Linked DNA regions of Homo sapiens: region 2 is linked to region 1. The links come from fine-mapping of genetic effects on gene expression. Tissue or cell type: whole blood. Region 1 holds a variant in brackets; the other region holds the start of a gene. All regions are shown on one strand. Distances are from middle to middle.

What was found. PIP is the estimated chance that this variant, and not a neighbour inherited with it, causes the effect.
Region 2: it holds the start of FZD6, and the variant in region 1 is fine-mapped to the expression of FZD6 in whole blood (TOPMed, PIP above 0.99).

Annotation. Positions count from the first base shown.
Region 1 is chr8:103,338,522-103,346,708 of GRCh38, forward strand. No RefSeq gene overlaps it. Among named protein-coding and RNA genes, the nearest start is that of CTHRC1, 29 kb to the right of the region's middle. The variant G/A (reference allele first, on the strand shown) is at 3,406.
Region 2 is chr8:103,295,247-103,303,433 of GRCh38, forward strand. It overlaps FZD6 (frizzled class receptor 6), which reads left to right and starts at 3,652. Exons shown (of 7, transcript NM_003506.4): 1 at 3,652-3,749; 2 at 4,710-5,038. The coding sequence starts at 4,862. LOC105369147 (a long non-coding RNA gene) reads right to left here and starts at 3,572. Exons shown (of 2, transcript NR_148216.1): 1 at 3,103-3,572. RefSeq lists enhancers at 3,228-3,728, 3,729-4,229, 4,083-4,132 and silencers at 3,333-3,382, 3,393-3,562, 3,683-3,932, 3,795-4,089.

The DNA of each region.
Region 1 (8,187 bases):
GGGAACTCTCACCATCAAATCTCATGAGATTTATTCACCATAACAAGAAAAACCTGCCCCCATGATTCAGTTACCTCCCAGTGTGTCCCTCCCATGACATGTAGGGATTATTACAATTCAAGGTGAGATTTGGGTGGGGACATAGAGCCAAACCATATCAATTCCCAAAATATTTTTAAGCACAAAAAAACTTGCAAAATTACACTTACACAATAATACCATGTATATAAACTACATCCACCCCACAAAACCACACTAATATTTTCTATTATTACTTATAAATGTATCTACATGCATAATGATACCATGTGTGTTAACAACCTTCACCCCATAGAATAATACTATATGTTTTCTATGGTTACATGTATATAAATGCATAGGGGAAGTCCAGGAAAATATAGAAACATGGGTTATCTCTGTGGAGGGGGTCAGTATTGTAAGTGATGAACAAAGCAGACTTTAGCCTGATCTGTAATGTTTACATTTTTATAAGGAGACTCTATTAATATATCATATGTCATCATTAAGAATCTGCTTATTTATTTATTTACTTATTTATTTTGAAACAGAGTCTTGCTTTGTCACCTAGGCTGGAGTGCAGTGGCGCAACATTTTCTCAGTGCAACATCCACCTCCTGGGTTCAACTGATTCTCCTGCCTCAGCCTCCTGAGTAGCTGTGATTACAGGTGCCTGCCACCACACCCAGCTAATTTTTGTATTTTTAATAGAGACAGGTGTTCACCATGTTGGCCAGGCTGGTCTTGAATTCCTGACGTCAAGTGATCCACCTGCCTTGGCCTCTCAAAATGCTGGGATTACAGGCATGAGCCACCACACACAGCCAAGAATCTGCTTTTTTAAAAAGAAAATCCACTAAGCACAAATCTAGCTAATTCGTGGATTCAGCCACATCTACCTGAGTCTGAGCCTGAAGCAGCCATTATTTCTGGGGATGTGGGCCACACACCTGCAGGCCAGGAAGGGGCAGCCCACACCGCTGAGGTCGGGAAAAGCCACCGGTGCATCCAGTTCAAACTCCCCTTGGCTCCTCAATCCTGCGCTTCTCCTTTCTCTGGAACCATATTCTCTTTAGTTGGCAATCACCACATGTTTATTGGGAACCTCTGTGCCTGCTTCTTTCTCTTCAGTCCCTTCTCCAGATTTGACTCCCACCCCCACAAATAAAGCCCAGACCTGCTGATTTGTTCCCGCACAGGGAAGACAGAGGAGCCTCCCAGGGTGAGACATCAGGGACACAGGTGAAGGAGAGGAAGCTGAGGTAGGCTGCGTTCAGTGGAACACCCACCAGGGCCGATTCCTCCTGTCCACACCCTAGTGCACACACCACCAGTACCTCAAGTGCCCCCAGCAGTGGGCAACACATCACCACAATTTACTTCTATATGCCTCAACCTCAAGTTGAGAAACTGCTCAAAAGTGAGATCTGAGGTTAGGGAGAATCTAAGGCATTCGTGGCTTTCTGCAGAAGATAAACCCCCGTTTTTCTCTGGAAACTCCAGCAATATATTCACCCATGTCCCTTAGAGCCATGCAGTTGACCCAGGCCCTTGAGTTCTGACAGAGGCACAGGAGCCCATGGAGCTGAGAAAGTTGTCTGTTTATAGCTCGCTTTGTCCTAGTAGCCATGGCTAAGTGTTCATGGGGACCATCGAATTTTGATCAGCATTTCCCAAATTGATGGATAGTTCCTACATAGGCTGAACTGTGAAGGGCCTAAGTTTCTTGTCTGTACTTGCCTACTGCCTAAGCTGCTAAGAGATTAGGTTTTGATTTTAGAATTTAACCTAGTCCTTTCCCTCTAGACCAGATGAGTCAATTTTTCCTCTTAATATGTTTGCCAATAGCAAAAATAACTTTCCTAACCATCTGACACTTAAACCAAAGATTCATTATTTTTAACCAAGAGGACAAAATGTTCCAATAAGAATACTTAATACATCAGTGAAAGGTAAGCCCCAGCTGTGGCCCAGGAGACCACTAGAGTCTCCCAAAGATATTCTTCTATCACTGCTAGATCTGCCATTCAACCTCTAGAATATAGCCAAGAAGAAAAAGTATATGATATTTTGGCAAGATAACCTGCACACTATAGACCCTGAACTCAGTGACTCTCAACAGCATTTTTCTGTCTTTAAAATTTTTGTTTTGTTTTGTTTTGAGACAAAGTCTTGCTCTGTCACCCTGGCTGGAGTGCAGTGATGTGATCTCGTCTACTGCAACTTCTGCCTCCCAGGTTCAAGTGATTCTCCTGCCTCAGCCTCCCAAGTAGCTGGGACTACAGGCACGTGCCACTATGCCCAGCTAATTTTTGTATTTTTAGTAGAGACACGGTTTCACCATGTTGGTTGGCCAGGATGATCCACCCACCTCAGCCTCCCAAAGTGCCGGGATTACAGACATGATCCACTACACCCGGCCAAAAATTTTTTTAATTTTTTAATTGTTTAATTGACACATAATAATTGTACCTATTTGTGGGATACACAACAACGTTTTGATATATGTAATGTATAGTGATTACATCAAGGTTTGGGTTGATTTTATGTTTTTCAGGACTAGAGTCTGGTATTCAGACTGGGATGCATGTTACAGTTCCTCCTCCTCATTTTCTGGGAGTGGGAGGAGGTGATAAAGTCCACTGTCATCTGTACTTCAAGCTCTAGACCAGGTCCTCACGGCACGGAACTTGAGATATACCAAGGAGTTAAGATTATGTCTCATACATAGAACAGAGACCCATGGGAATAATAGAACCTTATGATTTTTAAAATATTTTACTAAGACCCTTCTTCCATATTTCTCTGGATTGGGACACAGGACCATTTACTGGTTATAAAGCCCTGTTTACTAAGGCAAACAAAAAGGTGTAATTGGCACCCTAGGTTTTAAAATTTATAAATATCAAGTGCATGTCTGTGTGTGTGTGTATCTGTGTATCTGTGTGTGTGTGTGTGTGTGTGAAGCTTTTGGAACACCACTTAAGAATTCCTAAGAAAACCACACGTCAAGCCTCTATCACACACACTCAGGTAAATGGGTCTGTTCTGAAGACCAAATTTTGCCTTGGGTGATGTGTTCTAAGATCTAATCTTGGGAGGATCAGGAGGCCAGGAACACAAGCAAGCCCATTTGACTCTCACAATAAGCCACATTCTCCAGTGGCAGGTTTAACATCAACATACATTCTCAAAAATCAGGGGGAGGTATAACTAAATGAGCACTCACTCAGACAAACTACAGAGGTATTTGGTAAATCTATTTGTAAATAAAGTGAAAAAGAAGAGGCTCTGCTTTCTTCTTAGCCCTGTGTTGATAATTAGTTAGAGAAAAGATTGAAAGAGGTCGTATGCACAATCCTGTGTCAAAATAAGAATTCCTGTTAC[G/A]CTGGAACAATACTCTGGCTTCTCACTTACATGAACTCTTACACAATAGTTGGTTCAGAAGCAATTCAACTCATCAAAAAATGAATAGCAATTTTAAAGTGGAACTGAGGACCTATACAATAAAGCTACAAGAAAAAGAAAAGAAGAGAAACAAGACAAACAAATGACACAGAATCCCTCCCAGAAAATATTGCTATAGGGTAGATAACATGTTTGACAAAACGTATCATTTTTACAAGTTTTAGAAATCAGTGAAACAATCAACACTGTAAAAGAAATACACAATATAAGAGCTTGGAGATGACATGGGGAAAAGATACAAGGAGGCAAAACATGAATTACTGCCAAAACTCTGGAAAGAAATAGAAAAGAATTGGAAGCAGCACAGAAAATACACATTTCCTATAACATGATAATGGACATAGAGAAGAGGAATGAAAATAGTAAAATAAATAAAAATGACTAAGAGTTAAATAAATTGAAAGAGAAAATGGTAGTTACAGAAGACAAAGAAAATTAATATTTATATAACTAGTGACCCCGAAGAAGATAACCAAAATAACAGAACATATAATATCTAACAAGAGGCCAAGCGTGGTGGCTCATGCCTGTAATCCAGCACTTTGGGAGGCCCAGGCAGGCAGATCACTTGAGGCCAGGAGTTTGAGACCACTCTAGCCAACATGGCAAAACTCCATCTCTACTAAAAACACAAAAATCAGCTGGGTGTGGTGGCGCATGCCTGTAGTCCTAGCTACTTGGGAGGCTGAGGCAGGAGAATCACTTGAACCTGGGAGGCGGAAGTTGCAGTGAGCTGAGATCGCACCACTGCACTCCTTGGAAAACTGTGGCAACCCAACAAAGACAGGCCCACCAAGACCTTAATCATTTAGGAATGACAGTTTGTGTCTTCACTTGGAAAAAAGCCTCCAACCAAATGAAAGGCTGGCGGATGAAGAGGGAAACATGGGGTGGGTGAGGGAAGAGGCAGCTATAGGATATCAGCTTAGGCCTCAGAATTTTCCCCCTTTCTGACACTACCTAGATGAAAGCATTGGTTTGTCGCTGATTTAAGTTTTATTTCATGAGCATAATCATTACCCTTCAGTAGTCATGGTGATATTTAAAGGATTTTGTTACTTTTATCCAAAAGAAAAATAAATATTTTAAAGTTTTTTGTTTTGTTTTGTTTTTTGAGTCTCACTCTGTTGCCCAGGCTGCAGTTCAGTGGCACAATCTCGGCTCACTGCAGCTTCCACCTCCCGGGTTCAAGCGATTGTCCTGCCTCAGACTCCTGAGGAGCTGAGATTACAGGCACAGGCCACCACGCCTGGCTAATTTTGTATTTTTAGTAGAGACAAGGTTTTGCCATGTTGGCCAGGATGGTCTTGAACTCCTGGCCTCAAGTGATCCCCCTGCCTCAGCCTCCCAAATGCTGGGATTACAGGCATGAGCCACCACACCCAGCTTAAAGTATTTTTATATCAAATACTTCTTGCTGTGCAGCTCCCAACACATTGGATCAATGAAGGGCATTCATTCCCTCAGGAGAACATCAGATACAGCCAAGAACACAGGGGTCAGGGGATGCGAGTGACTAAATGTGTCCTGGCCCCATACAGCCAGATTGGTTGCAAAGAGGAAAGGTGCCAGGGTGGGTGTGGGATTCCTGAGACCTAAACTGGATCCTGGCTTTCAGACTGGAAAGATCCCAAGGCATCAGACTCTCCAAAAAGAGAACTGCTTGGGCAGGAAGGAGCTCTAAGGGCTGAATGTGGGACGAGGCAGGGAGAGGACCAGAGGCGGCCACCTCTCCAGAGTGCCCCTTGACTCCCTGCATCATTGATGGACTCTAGAAACAGCCAAGTGATCCCAGAAATAATCACAAATTATGGTATCTGTCAGGCACCATCTCAGGGATAAGGATCTAATGGAAAACACTAAAGGTCCTTGCTCTCATAAAACTTACATTCCAGGAGGTATCAGGCAATAAGCAAGTTACTGAATAAACAAACAAGGTCAATTCAGATTGGGAAGGTATTAAATAATGGAATATTACTCAATGATATTAATTGAAGCATCATTTATAACAGAAGCTAAAGTGTCTACAAATATGCAACTGGTTATATAATTTATTCCATTCCATGGAATACTGTGAAAATACTAAATTAATTAAAAGACAAGGAAGAACTGTAAGTGTTCATAGGGAAAGATGTCCAGGATTCACTGTTAGTGAAAAAAGCAGGTTATAGCATAATATGTATATGATAATCCTATTTGGTTTATATTCTAATGCAGTTGTATATGTATAATGACTAGAAATATATGTACCAAACTACAGACAATGGTTATTTTAGAGGAGTGAGATTATGTTGGGGGTCAATAGCAGGGAAAACTTTTACTTTCTACATTATGCACTTCTACATTGTTTGATTTCAAAATAAGCATATACTATTCCCCACCTACCTCCAAAATAGGGGTGGAGGAAGACAGTGGTAGCTCGAAGTGGCAAGAAAGAACAGCCTGTTTTGCAAACTTCTATTATTTATTTAATTTGACGCTTCAGGTAAATTGAGGCATATTGCATTTCAAGCTATATATCAAGATATAAATGAAAATAAGCACCTTTATGAATTTCATTATCTTAGACACTGTTCTAGAAGTTTCCAAATTATTTCTTACCAGATAAACTTTTTTTTCAATTTTGTAAAAGATAAAATATGCTTGTTTCTGGAATACAACATGTAAAATTTCATTGATTCTATATATGATATTAATGTATAAAATGCAAAGTTGGTTTTTACCTTCTACTGTAACTTGGTTTAGAACTTAACTTTGATGAGTGTCCTGTGTCTCTGGATAGAGATCTTAGAAATATTTGATGTGTTTTAGTCCTATACAGAATTCTAAGTTAAATATTTCAAGATGGCTTTGGTCAGCCAAGCCTGACTGCTGGTATGCAGACATGAGCAAATCACTAAGAAAAATAATTAAAACCCTTACTTTGGATAGGCAACTTGGAAACCAGCATATCTGTTGAATGTATTAACAATGACTCATAACCACATGAGTTAAATATACTGAGGAATTAAGTGTTTAGCTCATAGTTCTGGGTGTCCTGAGGCCTGGGATTACTATAACTCCAACAGAAAATAGTGATTGGATTAGATACTGGACTCAACTCCTAACTTCAAGGCCAAGAGTTTGCTAATAATGTACCCTGTAGGACTTAGACAGGAGGGGAACCTCCCTGCCTCATTCTGCCTTCTGTTTTCCAGGACTCTGTCAGGCAAGAGGGGGAAAATATCTTTGCAGCAGGCTGTCGTGTGATTTGGATTATTGCTTCAGATGCGAAGTCCAAAAATCTCAGAACAAAAGGAGTTCTGGTGACAAGTTGTAAGGAGAAAGAAAGTTGTAGGTGACAAGTTGTAAGGAGAAAGTTGTACTTCCTCACCGTCTTAGGGGATCCCCAGGAGCCCTCAGTACAATGCAACTTGTATCTGGGCCTTCTCCAGCAGTGGAAGCAGCAGACAGGTGTCTGCTAGCAATCTGTCATCTTCTCTTTCTGCATGCTCCTGACCTTGGGAGTCACAGCTCTGCAATGGGAACACTCCAGAGCACTGGGCCTCCAGGGACAAACTACTCTCTGGAAAGGAGCTGATGTGCTTGCTCACCTTAAACTGTAAATGCTGTTGGGGTGTAATCTTCCCAGATACATGGAAAAAAACCCATAGAATTTTGCTAAGTTAGAAAAAGAAAAAACTACTAATACATGCAACAATGGATGAATCTCAAAAATATTACGCCAAGCAAAGGAAACCAGACACAATGTGCACACAAAAAGCACATCATCCAGAAGTGGGCGAGTGACAGCTTAGCCTGGGAAGGATCATATGGTTGTATAGGCATGTCTATCATCTCTCCATAAAATGTGTGGGCCTATGTCATCTATTTGGGCTTCACCAAAAGTTCTGAGGAAAAAGGAACAGTCATCTTTAACATATCTGTGTCCTCAACCAAAAGCTGTCAATTGCCAACTCAATATCCATTCCCCCATTTTTTTTCATTGCAAAACTCCAATTTCTTCAAGTAGGAATTCTATTCTACATGGGGAAATTAGTCCCAGGAGCCCAGGAGACTTGATTTGTCTAAGTCTATTGTGGTTATCTCATTCACGGGATTAAGAATTATTTTAGGGCTGAGTACGTGGCCTCCTTCTAGCCAATGAAATGTGTATAGAGCAGGGGGCTCCTGAGACAGATTCTCTTCCTCAAGAAAGAAATAATGCAAGAGATGGTCCTCTTATTCCTCTAGACATTGTTGCATCCATCAGGGACACCTGAGTCAGCTGTCTCCCAGGGAGGATGATAGTGTGAGGACAAAGCCAGAATCTTAAAGTGGCAGAACCTAAAGATGGAAAAAAACTTGAATCCTTGACGATGCGGTTGAGCTCCGAGTTAATTCAACCCAGAGCAGCCCTCCTTATGAACTTCTTGTTAAAATAGAAAATAAATTTCCTTATCGTTTAAGTCATACTGAGTTGGAGTTTATATTACACGCTGCTGACAGCACCTTAACTGATTTAAAAATCAAATTTTTGGGGGGTGATGCATATTTGCCAATATAGTGTCTATCACATAAAAGACACTCAGTCAATGTTTTTTGAAATATTATAAGAAATGTATATGGCTTGGCACGTGGCTCATGCTTGTAATCCCAGCACTTTGGGAGGCCAAAGCAGGCAGATGACTTGAGGTCAGGTGCTCAAGACCAGCCTGGCCA
Region 2 (8,187 bases), 43 kb before region 1:
GTGAAACCCCGTCTCTACTAAAAATACAAAAATTAGCTGGGCATGGTGGTGTGCACCTATAATCCCAGCTACTCGGGAGGGTGAGGTGGGAGAACCATTTGAACCCAGGAGGCGGAGGTTGCAGTGAGCCAAGATCACGCCACTGCACTCCAGCCTGGCAACAGAGTGAGACACACACACACACAAACACACACACACACACACACACACACACACACACAAAGGGGGAGGGGGCCTAGTCTTTGGAGGGCACACTCACACTTTTGTAAGTTTTACCTCCAGGAGTTCTTCCAGGTTCTCTCAGTGAAAATCAAAGAAAAATCACCTCCTACATCCAACAGGGAGAGGTGAAAAGAACCATTTTGAAATATGTCAAAATATTCTGTTCTTTTTAACAAGGCCTGCCCTCAAGAGAAACTACCAGAGCCTAACCTATTACAGTTTTAGCAGAGCCTAACCAAGCTGATAGATGGGAAATATCCAACCCCAGCCCCCTCTAGACATCCTGTCCCACCCAAGAAGGGGGATAAAAACTAAGAAGCACTTGTGAAGTTTCCAGCCTAGGGACACAAGCTCACTAAGACTGAAATCTAATCATAGGTCTATAGAATGTTTCCCCTCCTCCCACATCTTAACACCGCATCACTGAAGCCCATTTACTCCAGTGCCTTTCACCCAGTGCATCATGTCCAGCTTTCAACTAAAAATTACAAGGCACACTACAGAGCAAAAAACACAGTTTGAAGAGGCAAAGCAATCATCAGAACTAGACTCACATACGGCAGAGATGTTGGAATTATCAGACCAGGAACTTCAAATAACTGTGATTAATATACTAAGGGTTGTAAAGGTAAACGTAGACAACTTGAAAGAACAGACGGTTAATGTAAGCAGAAATGAAAATTTTAAGGAAGAATAAGAATTGCTAGAGATATAAAATTCTATAACAGAAATGAAGCATGCCTTTGATGGATTCATTAATAGACTGGACATGGTTGAGAAAAGAATCTCTGAGTTTGAGGATATGTCAATGGAAACTTCCAAAATTGAAAAATAAAGAGAAAAAGGACTTAAAAAAAAGAAACAATATCCAAGAACTGTGAAACAACTACAAAAGTATAACATATGTGTAACAGGAATACCAGGAGAAGAATTAGAGAAAGGAACAGAAGAAATATTTGAAGCAATAGTGACTGAAAATTTCCCCAAATTAATGTCAGTCACCAACAATGTTAGACCAACTCTCTAAAATCTCTTCCAGAAGATAGAAGCAGGGGGAATACTTCCTAGCAGCATTGCCCTAATACCAAAACCAGACAAAAACATTACTAGCAAAGAAAACTATAAACCAATATATCTCTTGAACAAAGATGTAAAAATCCTCAACAAAATATTAGCTAGTAGAATCCAGCAATGCATAAAAAGAATTGTACAGCATAACCAAGATTTATCCCAGGTATGCAAGGCTGGTCCAATATTTGAAAATTCATTCATGTAATCTACCATACCAATAGACTAAAGAAGAAAAATCACATGACCACATCAATAGATGCAGAAAATGCATTTGACAAAATCCAGCACATTTTCATCATAAAAACTTTCAGCAAACTAGGGACAGAGGGGGAACTTTCTCACTTGCTAAAGAACATCTACAAAAACCCTAAGGTAACAATATACTTAATGATGAGGAGCTTACCTATAGAGGAACAAAAATAAAGAATGACATCCAACTTCTCAGAAACCACGTAGACAAGAAGAGAGGTGGAGTAAAAGTGTTCAGAGAAAAAAACTACCAACCTATAATTCTGTACCTTGCAAAATTAGCCTTTAAAAGTAAAAGTCTGTTTCTTCTACTTTTGGTCACCACTGTCCCCTAGCATCAGCCCAGAGGAACAATGCAAAGAGAAAGAGAAGGAAAATGAGGAAAACCGTCAGATAGTTCCATATTTACAGATGAAGAAACTAAAGAGGATCTGAATAATTTGCTCAAGTTCACACAGCAAGTAAATGCTGGAGCTAGGTTTTGAACCCAGGGATTTTGAACTCCAAAGTTTGTGTTCTTAATCTCGTACCATTGGGATGAAATTGTACAGTGAAAGACAAGCGATGATATAGATGATTGCCTAAGTATTCCAAATCCATCCTGACAAAAAAAAAATCATTCTAGTTCATCACTGCTCACTATATAATTAAATACAATGAAAAATAAAACAGGCTTTATTTACTTCTGTATAAATCAACTTACTACAATTTTTCCTTCCAAATAATGGAACAAGTATTCACTTGAATTTCAAAACTATCGTTTTCAAATGATACTTTAAAAGTATCGTTTTCAAACGATATTTTAAAAAGTATCGTTTTTAAATGATACTTTTAGTGATACTTCACTGCCTGGTAGTCACTAGAGCCTGATCACAAAAAGATCTCATTAAGTTCGTAGAAACTGGAGAGAAATAGTCTTCCAATGTAGAAAATTAGAAATTTAGGGGAAAATATTCTTCCTACATAGAAATTTATTCTGCAATACATCAACTATCCAGCTCTTAATGATGTTAATATTTCTTCATCACTACCTGTCTCCCAACATCAGTAAGCTTTTGATAAAACTGGGGAGGAATTCCCCACTCCAAATTCGTCTTTCCCCACAGATTCCAAAACTCTTACTCTGGTTGTTCAGGGTTGTCCTTCTAGGTATGGAAATATGACATTCCTTTTCTGCAACAGGATGATTTATCTGACAAGAATAGCCTCCATCTACAAGTTACTTTGCATTTTTCAAAGTACTTCTACAAGTTCATTTGCTTCTCATACTATTCTGCCTGTTTCATAGGAGGGCCTTACAGGTTAGGTGTAAACACTTGTAACGAACTTGGCACTATTTGACTTACAGCCAGTGCTCAATTAACGTTAACCATCATTACAACTATTGTCATTCCTATATTGTGAGGAAACTATGCCCCTTAAAGATTAGGGTAATTTATCTAATATCTATGACAGAGTTGGTACCCCAAACTAGGTTGATTTCTACAGCAGTTCAACTTCCTATTAGGGTTTGTATCAATAAAACTGTGGGACCCGCCAGGGCTGGAATCCCACTGCTACCTGAGCATCCAGTTGGTGACCAGGCTCCCCGAATTAATAAAAGTATTTGTTGTTGTTTTTATAGCAGTTGTCCAGGAAGTATCTCCTTTCGAACTCAAGTCACTTGGGCAATTGGCTTTACAAAGCAAATTGGCTCCGTTTAAGGATTCTTGACTCCTGAAATCCGCAAGGAAGTGGGTTCTTTTAGAGCCAGCGCCAAGAGCTTCAAAAAATCCTTCTAAGGTGAACCCCTCCGGACCCGGATAGCGAGATGGGGCTCAGCCTTGCGCCTCGGGGGTCGTAACAGACGGCAAGGTGGAGGTGGCTTCCCGGCCCCGCAGCCGGACCTCGGCACCCCGAGCCCGTTCACCGGGGCCGGGTCCTGGCGGGCCGCGGAGTGAGGCCGGGCGGCGCAGCGCAGGCGGTGCCCGGGCGCAGGGCCAGTCCCGCCGCCGCCGCCGCCGCCGCCGCCGCCGCCGCCGCGAGCCCGGACCTGCCCGCCCGACCTGGCGGCGCAGTCTCGCGGGATCGCTCAGCTCTCGCTCCCCGTGCGGCTCTCGAGGCAGCTCCAGTCCCGGACGCAACCCCGGAGCCGTCTCAGGTCCCTGGGGGGAACGGTGGGTTAGACGGGGACGGGAAGGGACAGCGGCCTTCGACCGCCCCCCGAGGTGAGGCTTCCACGGCTGGGACTGGGCAGGGGCCGGGCGGGTGCCGGGGGAAGCGGGGAGGGCCTCGAGGGGCGAGGGGCCGCGGCTGGGATGAGGCGCGCCGGGAGCCGCAGGTGCTGGGGAGGCAACGGCGGGACGGCCCGCACCTGAGTTTCCTCGGAAGCGGGAACCGGCTCTGAAAGGCGATGCCGGGGCCCCGCGGCGCCGCGCAGGCCAGGAACGCTGCTGTCTGGCTCTAGGCCTGGGGCAGGTTCCCGGGTGTGGGGCGCTGGCGGACCGGGCATCAGTGTGTGTTGGGGCGCGGGTAATTCGTAATCCGGGGCCTACAGCCTTCCTCCCGCAAGGGGACTGCCTTCGCCCTTCCCCCGGGACAGATTTGCGCACTTTCCTTTCGACGGCAGCACTACACCCTCCTAGCCAGTGAAAACTGCAATGTTGCTCCTCCACTGGAGGAATCCTAAAAGTCTCCCTCTAGTTGGCCTTACGAAAATCGAGAAAACTACATACCCAGAAGACTGCCACAAAAACTGACTCTTCAGAGTCTTTTACAAGTTTAAGAACTCTTTGGGTCTTAAGGAATTTCCCAGGGCCTTAGTTTTCTTGTACTTAATAAGCTTTCCAACAGGGGCCCTTAGATTGTATGCTTATATTAATCCTTTATAATTTACTCCGAATCACCAGCTTTCCTTTTTTCCTCCATCTTACTCTTGCCATTCCCTCTTTTTAACCCTGTCTTCCATACAGCACCAACCTCCTAGCATCGGTTTCCTAGAGGTGCAGCTTCCTTAGCAAATGATATATTCCATGCTAAGGCAGGTGGAAGAGTATCTCGTTAGGACAGAATTTTCCGTTGTTTTTCCAGTGTTTGTTACCTGGGGTGAAAATCTTAACTCTGCACTTTGACTCCACATTTGAGTTTATGACAAATGTTGCTGATACACCCTCCTTTTGTTTTTACAGTAATTGACCCAGGACTCATTTTCAGGAAAGCCTGAAAATGAGTAAAATAGTGAAATGAGGAATTTGAACATTTTATCTTTGGATGGGGATCTTCTGAGGATGCAAAGAGTGATTCATCCAAGCCATGTGGTAAAATCAGGAATTTGAAGAAAATGGAAATGTTTACATTTTTGTTGACGTGTATTTTTCTACCCCTCCTAAGAGGGCACAGTCTCTTCACCTGTGAACCAATTACTGTTCCCAGATGTATGAAAATGGCCTACAACATGACGTTTTTCCCTAATCTGATGGGTCATTATGACCAGAGTATTGCCGCGGTGGAAATGGAGGTGAGTAGTGCTTCATACGTTTATTGAATAGTAGTTTATGCTCTGTTCTAGAATAAACTAGTAAAAATAAGTCTATTTTTAAACAGAGCCGATTTCTTCAAGTTGTGTACAAGTTGTGTTTTGAAAAGTCCTTTTGAAAATTAAATCCCTCTACTGACTTATGTTTTGTGTACCTTTGCGGCCCTGTTTAGTAGATTCGTTTGAATAGGGTTCATTTTATATAATGAAGTATGGTTACACATGATTTCTAAATACCTTGTACCTAGAAAATATTTTGCTTTCCTGAATCAAGTATGATAGTTCTTCTAGAAATGCGAATTCTGAATATTTTTCTACTTCACTGAACATGTAATATTTATTGCCTGGACTAAAACTGAAGAAATTTACAAGTTTTTATAAGTAGTTGTAATATTCACTTGGTACAGTTTTTCTGAAATAAATAAATTATCAGAATATTTTGTTGCTGTAGACTGTATTTTAAGGCTATCACAAAGTCACTAAAAAGTGACTTTGTTTTCTAAGCATAGCACTTATATGTTCTTTATAAGATACTTGTTAAAAGAAACCACTTGGGAGGAGTACAGTGACACTAAAGATTGCCTTAGGTGCCTTAGTTACCTGTCTCTGGTTTAGAGATATGCAAATTACTAGGGAGTGTGAGAAGAAAGCTACCTGTACAGACAGGAACCTGCCTTCCCATACAGATTTGTTAGGTTGTTAAGTCTCCTGAAGGAAACTAGACACATGCATTGTTTTTGTAGTTTTTCTCCAGAAAAACAGAATAGTAAAGGCTTTTTTCCCTCAGATTGTTGCTAAGAGAGGAAATCCCTACAAATTTAATATATATACTATTTTTAAAATTGATTAGATTTGATTTTGCAGCTTTGAAAGTTTTCTATTGTTGTTCAGTTGAATAGTTGTCTGACTGCCTCATTGTGGACTCATGTCTGGAATAGGAAAGCTTATAAATACTAAGTAGATGTTATTTAAAAGGATAGTACAGATTATATTATTGTTATCTTTCAGTGGTTTTTTTCAAACTGATGCTAGATGTCCTTTTGAACTGAACAAATGATGCACTGAGACTTTCATGAATCAGAACCATTTTGATGGTTCAATCTGATTCAATATGAAGTATATAGTGAGAACACTGTGAAGCAATAATTACATCATTCATTCACTTTTTTGCTGATGATAATATGTTTTGTAGTGTTCATGTTTTAATAGTGTTCCTAAATTTTTTAAATCTAATTTCCTTTGTATGTGGTAACTACATACATTTTAAGGTTTTTGTTTTTTCTTTTAGAGATGGGGTCTTACTATGTTGCCCAGGCTGGTCTCAAACTCCTAGGCTCAAGTGATCCGTCCTGCCTCAGCATCCCAAAGTGCTAGGATTACAGGCGCGAGCTACTGCACCTGGCTGACCATTTTAAGTTTGAATGCTAACAGTGACCTTATAAATTCATATCACCTAGACTCAAGAGAGATGCATCCCTGCTATTAAATGCCTGTAATTATAAGATGGTAGCAACTAGCTTTGTTCTGCACGTCTTTTTAAAACCAAATTTTTTTTACTTTCAAAAAAATTACTTTTTAATTTACCTAGCTTCTTTCCCAAGTAGTTTTGTGCCTGGATATTATCAAGAAGGCTTTTTGTTCTTACCTCTTTTATATGATTGCTAATACTACCAATCTCTTCATTATATAATTTTCCACTTATAACTAACCTTTCTCATAGCCTTTACTAATGAAGTTTTTTTTTTTGCTATAAATCATACTTCAGTAAATTTAAGGATACAAAAGAAGAGAGCCATCAAGCAGTCACAATACCAGCATTAACCTAAGTCTATAGAAGAAAGGAAAGAGAAATGAAAAGGCAAAAATAATGTCACCCTGGCTCAGACTTTTAATCCCTATATGTAATTTCTCAGTGTATACTATTGTGTTTTTCCTACTGCCCCTTTCCTATTTATCCATATACAGTAGTATTCTCTTTTAGTTCCTGTATTTGAATGTCCAAAATCCTATAAGTTGAGAGTTGTAAGTGACCCTAAAGATCATATAGAGCTTCTTAACCTTTTTTATGACATTAACCCCTTCTCAAGATAAGAGAAGTTTTAATATTTAAATAAATAAAATGTGTAGGATTACAAAGAAAACAAATTATATTGAAATATAGCTCAGGTAAAGAACCCCCGAACCCTTCATTATACAGATGAAGAAACTGAAACCCAGAAAAGCTGCGATTTGTCCCTTTGAGCACTCTAATCTGATAGTCTTCTCTGTCTACATGGACCATAATGTCATCTTTAACTGGTTTTTTTTTAGGCCCTTGTCCTGATTGGATAAACAAGATAATATTTCTTATGATTTAGAATGCAATGTGTAAATTTCAGACTTTGCTACTTATTTGCAAACTTCATTTAGATAAAAATTAAACTGGGTGATTGTTTTACCTCTGTTTAGCTCTGTCTCTCTTTTTCCTTCTTACAAGTGCCTTGAATACAAAGTCTTGTTAGACCAAAAATAAAATCTCTGTGGCGCACACCTGTAGTCCCATCTACTCTGGAGGCTGAGGTGGGAGGATCACTTAAGCCCAAGAGTTGGAGGCTGCAGTGAGCTATGATCGTTCCACTGCACTCCAGTCTGGGCAACAGAGTGAGACTTCAACTCAACAAAACAAAATGAAAACAACAAAAACAAAGCAAAAGTTAACTCCCTAATCTTCAGTCTCTCTAGTGGTGCCACAATGATTTTATTATAATTCAAATTTGTGCAGTCCACTTTAGGGTTAAAATCCTTCATCATTTTCCCTAAAGCTGGGGAAAAAAAGACCTGGTTCTAGAGCACTCCAGGCCCTTCATGTGGGACCCTGGCTGCTTGTCCAGTCTCTCATCTTGTACCTTCCCACATTGCACACTCTGCTTCAGCCAACTGACCTATTTGGAGAATTCAAATCCATATTACTGTCCATCACCTCTGTATCTTTACACACACTCTATCCTCTGGTGAGCCGTCTGTCTACCTACCTTTCTTCACCTGCTCAATTCCTTCAGTTCTCAGTTAAAGCAATAACTGTTTTTAGCGAACCCTTCTTTCACCTTTCTCCTGAGCAAATTTAATCACCCCACTCTACACCCTTACAGTAC